Linked DNA regions of Homo sapiens. The protein of the gene in region 1 purifies or fractionates together with the protein of each later gene. This does not show direct contact. Each region holds a gene or a part of one and is shown on either strand. Other genes may lie near its edges.

Region 1 (3,917 bases):
CATTTATGGAAGTCATATATGCAGGATTGCAGAATCTCCCTACTAGTCCTGGACTCCTACCTCTAGATGTATGGAAAAAAAAAAACTTCTATTTTATTCATACCATTGTATTTTGGGCTTTCTATTGTAGGGAGAAGAGCTTAGCCTGTACCACTAATATAAAGAGATAATTTGAAAATGAGAAATAATAATTAACTCAAAGTTCTTTAGCTTCTTTCTATCTATTGACTTTGGCTGCACACCATTTTGACCATCCATAAAAATGGGTTTGTACCTAATGGAAATGTAGATCTGGATCCAAGTACAGACTCTGCCACTTTCTAGCCATGTGCCCCTAGGGCAACCAACTTTAAGTGAATTTCCTTATCTTAGAGTGGTTAATCATACAATTCAATAAAGTCAGAATTTGTTTTCAATGCCTGTGAAAGCACATTATAAAAACAAAATAATCCTGCCTGAAACCACCATATTGTGGTAGGCACAATTACTATGAATGGCCCCCAAGATTCCACCCCTGCTAATCCCCAGAACCTGCGAATATGGTGAGATCATTACTCCTGTGATTGTGATATTCTCTACAGAACTGACCTTAAAATAGGGATATTATCGAATTGGAACTAATCTAATCACTTGAGTCCATAAGAGCAAAGAGCTTTCTCTGGCCAGTGGCAGACAAGTAAGACTGCTTTAATGCTTGAGAAGGATTTGTGGTGTCTTTGAAGATGCAGATGGCCTTAAAGAACTGAAAGAGGCTCAGGCTGACAAACAGTAAGGATATAGAAATGTCAGTGTGAATTCTACCAACAATCTGAAATAGCCTGGAGGTGGATTCTCCCCTAGAGCCTCCAGAAAAGAATCCAAATCTACAGAAACCTTGGTTTCGGTTTTGTGAAATTCTAAGCCAAGTACTCAGCTAAGCCCACCCAAACTTCACATTTACAGAAGCTATGAGATAATACATTTGTGTTGTTTTAATTGTTGCATTTGTGTAATTGGTTAAGGCAGCAATAGAAGACTAGTACACACATACAGAGAAGATAAGCTATTCTGTTTACCTCTGTGCCACTTAATAGACTCTAGAAAACTGGAAGCAAGAGTATTAGTTACATACCCACTATAGTGCTTAACCCACCAACCGGTACACATTAAAAATATAAATTATTGGATTCTTTCTTGAAGAGTTTTCTTGAATTCTCAACCACAAAGATTAAGTTAAATAAGATGGTTCCAATAGCACTAAGAAAATGATTATGCTAGATTTAATTAGAATTGACTTTCTGGGGGCAATTAGATATGAATTCACAGAAAGTGGAAAAGAACCACGAACAATACGTGAAGGAATTGTCACATACCAGTACACCAAGAAGATGAACTGCTTGAGACTGCCAGGAGCCTGCTGCAACAATTGTTTTGAGATCACAGGGAACTGGACTAAGTCGGTGACTGTGGGAAGAAAGAAACAAGCTTAACAAATATTTAAGAGGGAAAAAGAAATGAACAAGCTAGTGAAAGAAGGTGGAATGCAGACAAACTAGGAGTTGGGAGTTCCCAAGACAAACTTTTCGTGAATCACTGCAAACACACGCAAATAGTCCACCTGCTAGAGAGCAGGAGTAAATGATCATACAATTAAGTAGGTTTCAGACAAGTACACCTTCCATTAGACGGGTTCAAAGGGTAGAGGATACGTTTTCAGTGGCTGGGTAACAGGTTCGTCGCAGAGTGGCAAGGGGTAGAAGCAGGAGCAGAGGGCAATGAGAGCTCGGAGGCTCTTCCCACCAACCCAAGAGCAACTCTGCACTCAAGAGGCCATCAAGTGAGAGAAATCTAAGCACTACAACGGAGCAGCCCCGCGGCCCAACCTTGAGGGTACCCCTGAGACCCCAGCAGGCGAGATGCTTGATGACACTACTCCCCCACCAAATCCAGGCACCTTTGCGGTTCTGCACGACTTAACTTTCCCCCGCCCCCGAGTTGAAGGATTAGGGGAGGGAGGGAATGCTGCTTCAACGGACCTGTCCGTCCTCACCGCCCGCGCCTCGCCGCCTCTGCCGCAGCCTCAGCCTGCAGCAGCACCGGCTCGCTCCCCCTTGGGCCTCAAAGGTGCGGGAATTGGACTGAAGGCCGCTAGGGTCCCGCCCCGCATTCGCCGGGGAACAGGATTGGATAGAAAGCCGCGAGGGTCCCGCCCCTCACTTTCCGGGGAACGGGACTGGACGGACAGCTGCAAGGGTCCCGCCCCGTGCCTGACGTCGGGGGCGAGCCGGGCCTGCGCGGTAGTGGGACCCGACCCTGTCTCCAGTGGGCGTCTTGGGCCCCGGCTCTATTCTGGGCTGCGGGCCTGGGAAGGGCTCGCCGGGTGCCAAATGAGCTGTCCTAACTCTGCGGGGCTGCAGCTTCCTGCATGATGCTGGGGAGCTTGGCGCCTGACCCAGGATCTAGAAGGCACTCTGGGCAGGCCGCGCTCCGCCCACGAAGGTACCCAACCCTCTGGGATAGATGCAGGAAGCGATGGTTAAGACCCATTTTCACCCAACTTCTCGCCGCAGGTCTGGCTTACCACACGCTCCTCCCCATTCCCAGTGAGCCGCTTTTTGCAGCACCAGGCGAACACTTACACCAGTGCTTTGTAAAGGAATCTTATTGTCCACCCCGTGTCTTGGCAAAAGAACAGTGATCACACAGATTCCTACTTGGGCTCTTTCCTTTAATCTTCGGAGGCTGAGTTTGCCCAACTCAGGTATGCCGCAGCACACTACATCATCTCGGGTCTCCTTGCTCTTCTGCAGCTCTTCATTGCTACCCAAGTTATTTGAATACCCCAGGGATGCTTACCCCCGGGCCTATCTGATGTCTTTTACTGTTGTGCCAAGAAATGGAATCTTTAACCAGAGTGGAGCTACCCAAGTTCTAGAAGATCATAATGTGATTGACTTAGTTTCACAGATTAATTCATTTTGCTTTTACCTTCTGAAATAAAATATACTGTTTCATTTTTAATTTTAAATACACTGTTTCATTTTTTTGTGGAAGGAAAGACCAAATGTTTACACTGACTCTGAACTAGTTATCAAAGATAAAGATTTAGATTTCAAATTAACATGTCATGACAGGCCCCATTCCTTTGTCTGTCGTTTCTAACTCCTTTAGCAGTAAAGTTTGACCTGAAGGGAAGTGAGGCTATGTGTAACTGAATGTTCCCTTTGTGTAAATATTCATAAGTTTTCTACAGAAATATTGTGTTTGATTACAGTACAGCTTGCTGGAAGTGTTTCATAATATATGGCAGACGTACTATTCTAAGAAAAGTTCTGAATTTTGAAACATATCTAGCCAAAAAGATTTTAAATAAGGGATTAGGAATTTGTAGTTGTAATTTCTGAAGGTGTGATAAAGAACTTTTTCTTTCATATATAAGTGCGATGCTCTGGATGATGTTAAAGTTTGCTTACAAGATAAAGTTTTTAAATTGAGTAACTAAAAACTACTCAGAAACCTTCGTTGTATTTTTTTTCTCCTTTTTAGTGAGTCTTGGCATCTCTTTAAAAGTTTATGCATGTTTAATGCCTGTTGGTGCATAGAATTTAGAACCATTTCGCTTCACTCTTTTTCCTACTCTTGTTGTTTATTTCAATGGAAACAAGATGTTTCTGTAAAGATTCCTGAATTATCGGATAGACAAAAAGGTGTGGGAGTGAAAAAATGAATGGAACACAGATTTGAGTATGTAGAAAAAAATCTTTTAAAATATGTTATACTGATAAGCATATGTACCCCAAATCACCAAAAACAGGTATTTTAAAATATGTTTGGCTTCAAAATGTGTGATATATATTTTAATGAAAGATTCCAAATTATGTTGCATTCAGGTTAAACTTGAACGAGTTTGCATTTCTTAGAGTGGAGCGGGAGATATT
Region 2 (3,817 bases), on another chromosome or scaffold:
GGCAAAACAGCCTGCAGCTGGACAGCATCTCCCAACAGATCACCCTCTAACATCTCAAGTTCAGCGTTTCCAAAATGTTGGGATCATCTTCCCTCCTTCCCCAGACTAAAAACCAGCTCCTCCTTGTTTTTGTTTTTGTGTTGTTTTGTTTTGTGGTGGCATGGGCTCTGCATTCAATTGCTAGGACCAGCGATTTCAGAAACTCCCTCACAGCCCTTCTCATCTAATCCATGCTCAGACTTCTTCCAAATCCTTCCTCTCCCCTCCAAGGCTGCAGCTCTGCTGGCTACTCAACTGACGGCTCCCCCTTGCCACTGGTTTTCCCATATCCTATCTTTCGCTCTTCCGATATACTTCCAGCCACACCTTCTCCAGATTTGTCTCCAGTCACGCAACTGCCCCACTCAAAAAACTTTCAAAATCCTTGATCTCTCCTTTTCTATACCCCCAAAAGTGTAAAGTGTTCACCCTTGCCATTTGATGCTTCCCCAATGTACCCACAATTTCACATCCACGAACGCCCTACCATGAGTACTCCATGCTTTGGTCAAATTGAGTGGGCAACTTTTCCAGAAACACTTTCCCACCTCAGGACTCCTCCCCCTGTGACCTCCAGCCTGAACTGCGGTCCAGCCGCCGGGCCTTTTGCTTCCCCTGCACGTGCCCATTCTTGGCGCTCCACAGTCCTTCACCATGAATCGTATTTTTGGCACCTCTATGAAAGCATCTTTCTTTTTTTTTTGAGACGGAGTCTCCCTATGTCGCCCAGGCTGGAGTGCAGTGGCGCGATCTCGGCTCACTGCAAGCTCCGCCTCCCAGATTCACAACATTCTCCTGCCTCAGCCTCCCAAGTAGCTGGGATTACAGGCGCCCGCCACCACGCCCGGCTAATTTTTTTGTATTTTTTGGTAGAGACGGGGTTTCACCGTGTTGGCCAGGATGGTCTCGATCTCCTGACCTCGTGATCCGCCCGACTCGGCCTCCCAAAGCGCTAGGATTACAGGCGTGAGCCACCGCGAAAGCATCTTTCAGACCGGGCGCAGTGGCTCACGCCTGTAATCCCAGGACTTTGGGAGGCCGGGGCGGGCAGATCACCTGAGGTCAGGAGTTTGAGACCAGCCTGACCAACATGGAGAAACCCCGTCTCTACTGAAAATACAAAAAAATTAGCTGGGCTTGGTGGTGGGCGCCTGTAATCCCAGCTATGGGAGGCTGAGGCAGGAGAATGGCATGAACCCGGGAGGCGGAGGTTGCAGTGAGCTGAGATCGCCCCACTGCACTCCAGCAAGGGCAACAGAGCGAGACTCTGCCTCAAAAAAAAAAAAAAGAAAGAAAAAGAAAGCATCTTTCAAAACCTCTATTGCGTGTTAGAACGATACAAATATTTTTTCCTACAGAGTAAACTCTGTGTTGTTCTCGTCTTCTGGAACTTTGTACATGGTGGATGTTCAGTAATATTTTGTTAATTGAATGAAATCAGTGAATTCTTCAGTCAGTGATTTGGAAATGGATACAAAGGGAAGTCAACTCCACAAAACAAAAAACCTGAAGCCACTGGAGCACCACTTTCTCCCAAAGGAATGCAAAGTGGACAACACTCGAATTTGACATTTGAACCACAACTTCATCAGCTTGACTTCAAGTTGCAGACTGTTCTGATCTGCACAGTTTCTCTCCCAAGAGTGGATGGAGGGAGCCAGAAGCCCAGAGGGAAGTCTCCCAGGGCACATTTGCCCAAAGCAATGACTCCTTGGTATCTAAGCCTGAATTCACATCAAAAATGTCGCCTGGCCAACATGGCTAAACCCTGTCTCTACTAAAAATACAAAAATTAGGCCGGGCGCAGTGGCTCACACTTCTAATCCCAGCACTTTGGGAGGCCGAGGCAGGTGGATCACTTGAGGCCAGTTCGACCCTGGTCAACTTGGCAAAATCCCATCTCTACTAAAAATACAAAAATTAGCCAGGTATGGTAGTGTACGCCTGTAATCTCAGCTACTCGGGAAATTGAGGCAGGAGAATCACTTGAACCCGGGAGGCAGAGGTTGCAGTAAGCTGAGATTGCACCACTGCACACCAGCCTGAGTGAGAGTGAGGCCCTGTCTCAAAAAAAAAAAAAAAAAAAAAAAACCAGTTAACTAATAGATGAGATTTAGAGTTTGGTGAATTCTAATTGATTTCTAAAAAATAAAGGAAGAGATGTGTAGTGTGGCCAAAAGACCTCCAATCCGGGGTTCCTGAGATCCCGGCCACAGGCCAAGTCATCTCATCTTCCTCGGTCTCAGGGTCCTCTTCTGTATGAGGAGGTGATAGACTAGCTGACTGTTGAGTCTCTTTCAGTCTAAAACTCAATGATTCCATGAACATTTTAACAGGAGCAATGAAAGTGACTACAATAGCAACTTTAGGTTACACCAGGCTCTGTGCTTAAACTCCTGATGTTTCCATAATGATCCTGGGTGAGCTCCCTAAACTGGCTCCAGTGAGGTTCCTGCAAATCTGCAATCACCCCGTCCCTCTGGGTACATGCTCTTCTAGGTCCGGTCTTCAGCACTAACAAGATCTTTGCAGGAATGCTGGTTTTTCTTTCTGGATTTCAATGCCTGGAATGAATGTAGGTTGGGGGCCTGGCTTGAGAATCATGCTACCTGCCTGATGACATGTGATACTGAAAATGGCCAAACGCTGAACTTCCCACAAGATCACCTCAGTGTCCAGCATCTAGTCCTGTCAGCTACCCCAACAACCAGGCATGCACACCAGTTCCAAGGGTACAGCACTGTAATACCCAAAGGCTAGTAAAAACCAAAGTGCCCCAAAATAGAGAAAAACTTCAATACCTCATGATGTGTGCAGGGGAGCAGCACACAGCAGTTAAAAGGAGGTAGATGTAGATGTCCCGATATTAATGGATGTTTCTTGAATAATGTTAAATAACAAAGCAAACTACAGAAATGTGTATTGTGATCCCATTTTGTCTGCTATTATAGGCATATGTAAATATGTGTTCATGTGTAAACTTATATGACTGTAAAAGAGTATCCGGAAAAATAAGCAGTAAATTATTTGCAGTGGATACCCCATGGGATATATATGGGGTGGGTTTCACTCTTCCCTTGAATTCTTTTGAATGGTTTAAATTTTTGTCAATGAGTGCAACATAGTATTTCTTTAAAACCTGGTATTCACAACTATCTAGTATAAAAGTACACATATTGGCCAGGCACAGTGGCTCATACCTGTAATCCCAGCATTTTGGGAGGCCAAGGTGGGCAGATCGCTTGAGCCCAGGAATTTGAGACCAGCCTGGGCAACATAACAAAACCCCATCTCTACAAAAACACAAAAATTATCCGGCATGGTGGCACATGCCTGTAGTCCCAGCTACAGGGGAGGCTGAGGTGGGAGCACCAATTCAGCCTGGGAGGTTGAGGCTGCAGTGAGCCATTATCACACCACTGCACTCCAGCCTGGGCAACAGAGTGCGACTCTATCTCAAAATAAATAAATAAATAAAACGCATACCTTACGTAGCCAAAATTAACATGCTTCATCCAGGCCCCACCATCAAAATCTCACTATCCAAGGTCCCACTGTCTAAGGTTACTTAGACAGTGGGACACCTCAAAACACATCTTACATTTCTCAGTCTCTCTAGGGGTGTGAAAGGTACTGACACATTTTTTAAACAATATCAGACATGACAAGCCCTTTTTTTTCTTTTTTTGAGACAGAGTCTTACTCGGTCGCCAGGCTGGAGTAGAGTGGCACGATCTGGGCTCACTGCAACCTCCGCCTCCCGGGTTCAAGCAATTCT

What was found.
Region 2: the proteins of CROT (region 1) and FBP1 purify together in Homo sapiens (affinity purification with mass spectrometry; one large-scale study listed by BioGRID and IntAct). This does not show direct contact.

Annotation. Positions count from the first base shown.
Region 1 is NC_000007.14:87,343,866-87,347,782, reverse strand, and holds the start of CROT (peroxisomal carnitine O-octanoyltransferase), read right to left. Parts: upstream 2,120-3,917; 5' UTR 2,016-2,119; intron 1,444-2,015; 5' UTR 1,353-1,443; intron 1-1,352. UniProt on the Homo sapiens protein: Beta-oxidation of fatty acids. The highest activity concerns the C6 to C10 chain length substrate. Converts the end product of pristanic acid beta oxidation, 4,8-dimethylnonanoyl-CoA, to its corresponding carnitine ester.
Region 2 is NC_000009.12:94,632,981-94,636,797, forward strand, and holds part of FBP1 (fructose-1,6-bisphosphatase 1), read right to left. Parts: intron 1-3,817. UniProt on the Homo sapiens protein: Catalyzes the hydrolysis of fructose 1,6-bisphosphate to fructose 6-phosphate in the presence of divalent cations, acting as a rate-limiting enzyme in gluconeogenesis. Plays a role in regulating glucose sensing and insulin secretion of pancreatic beta-cells.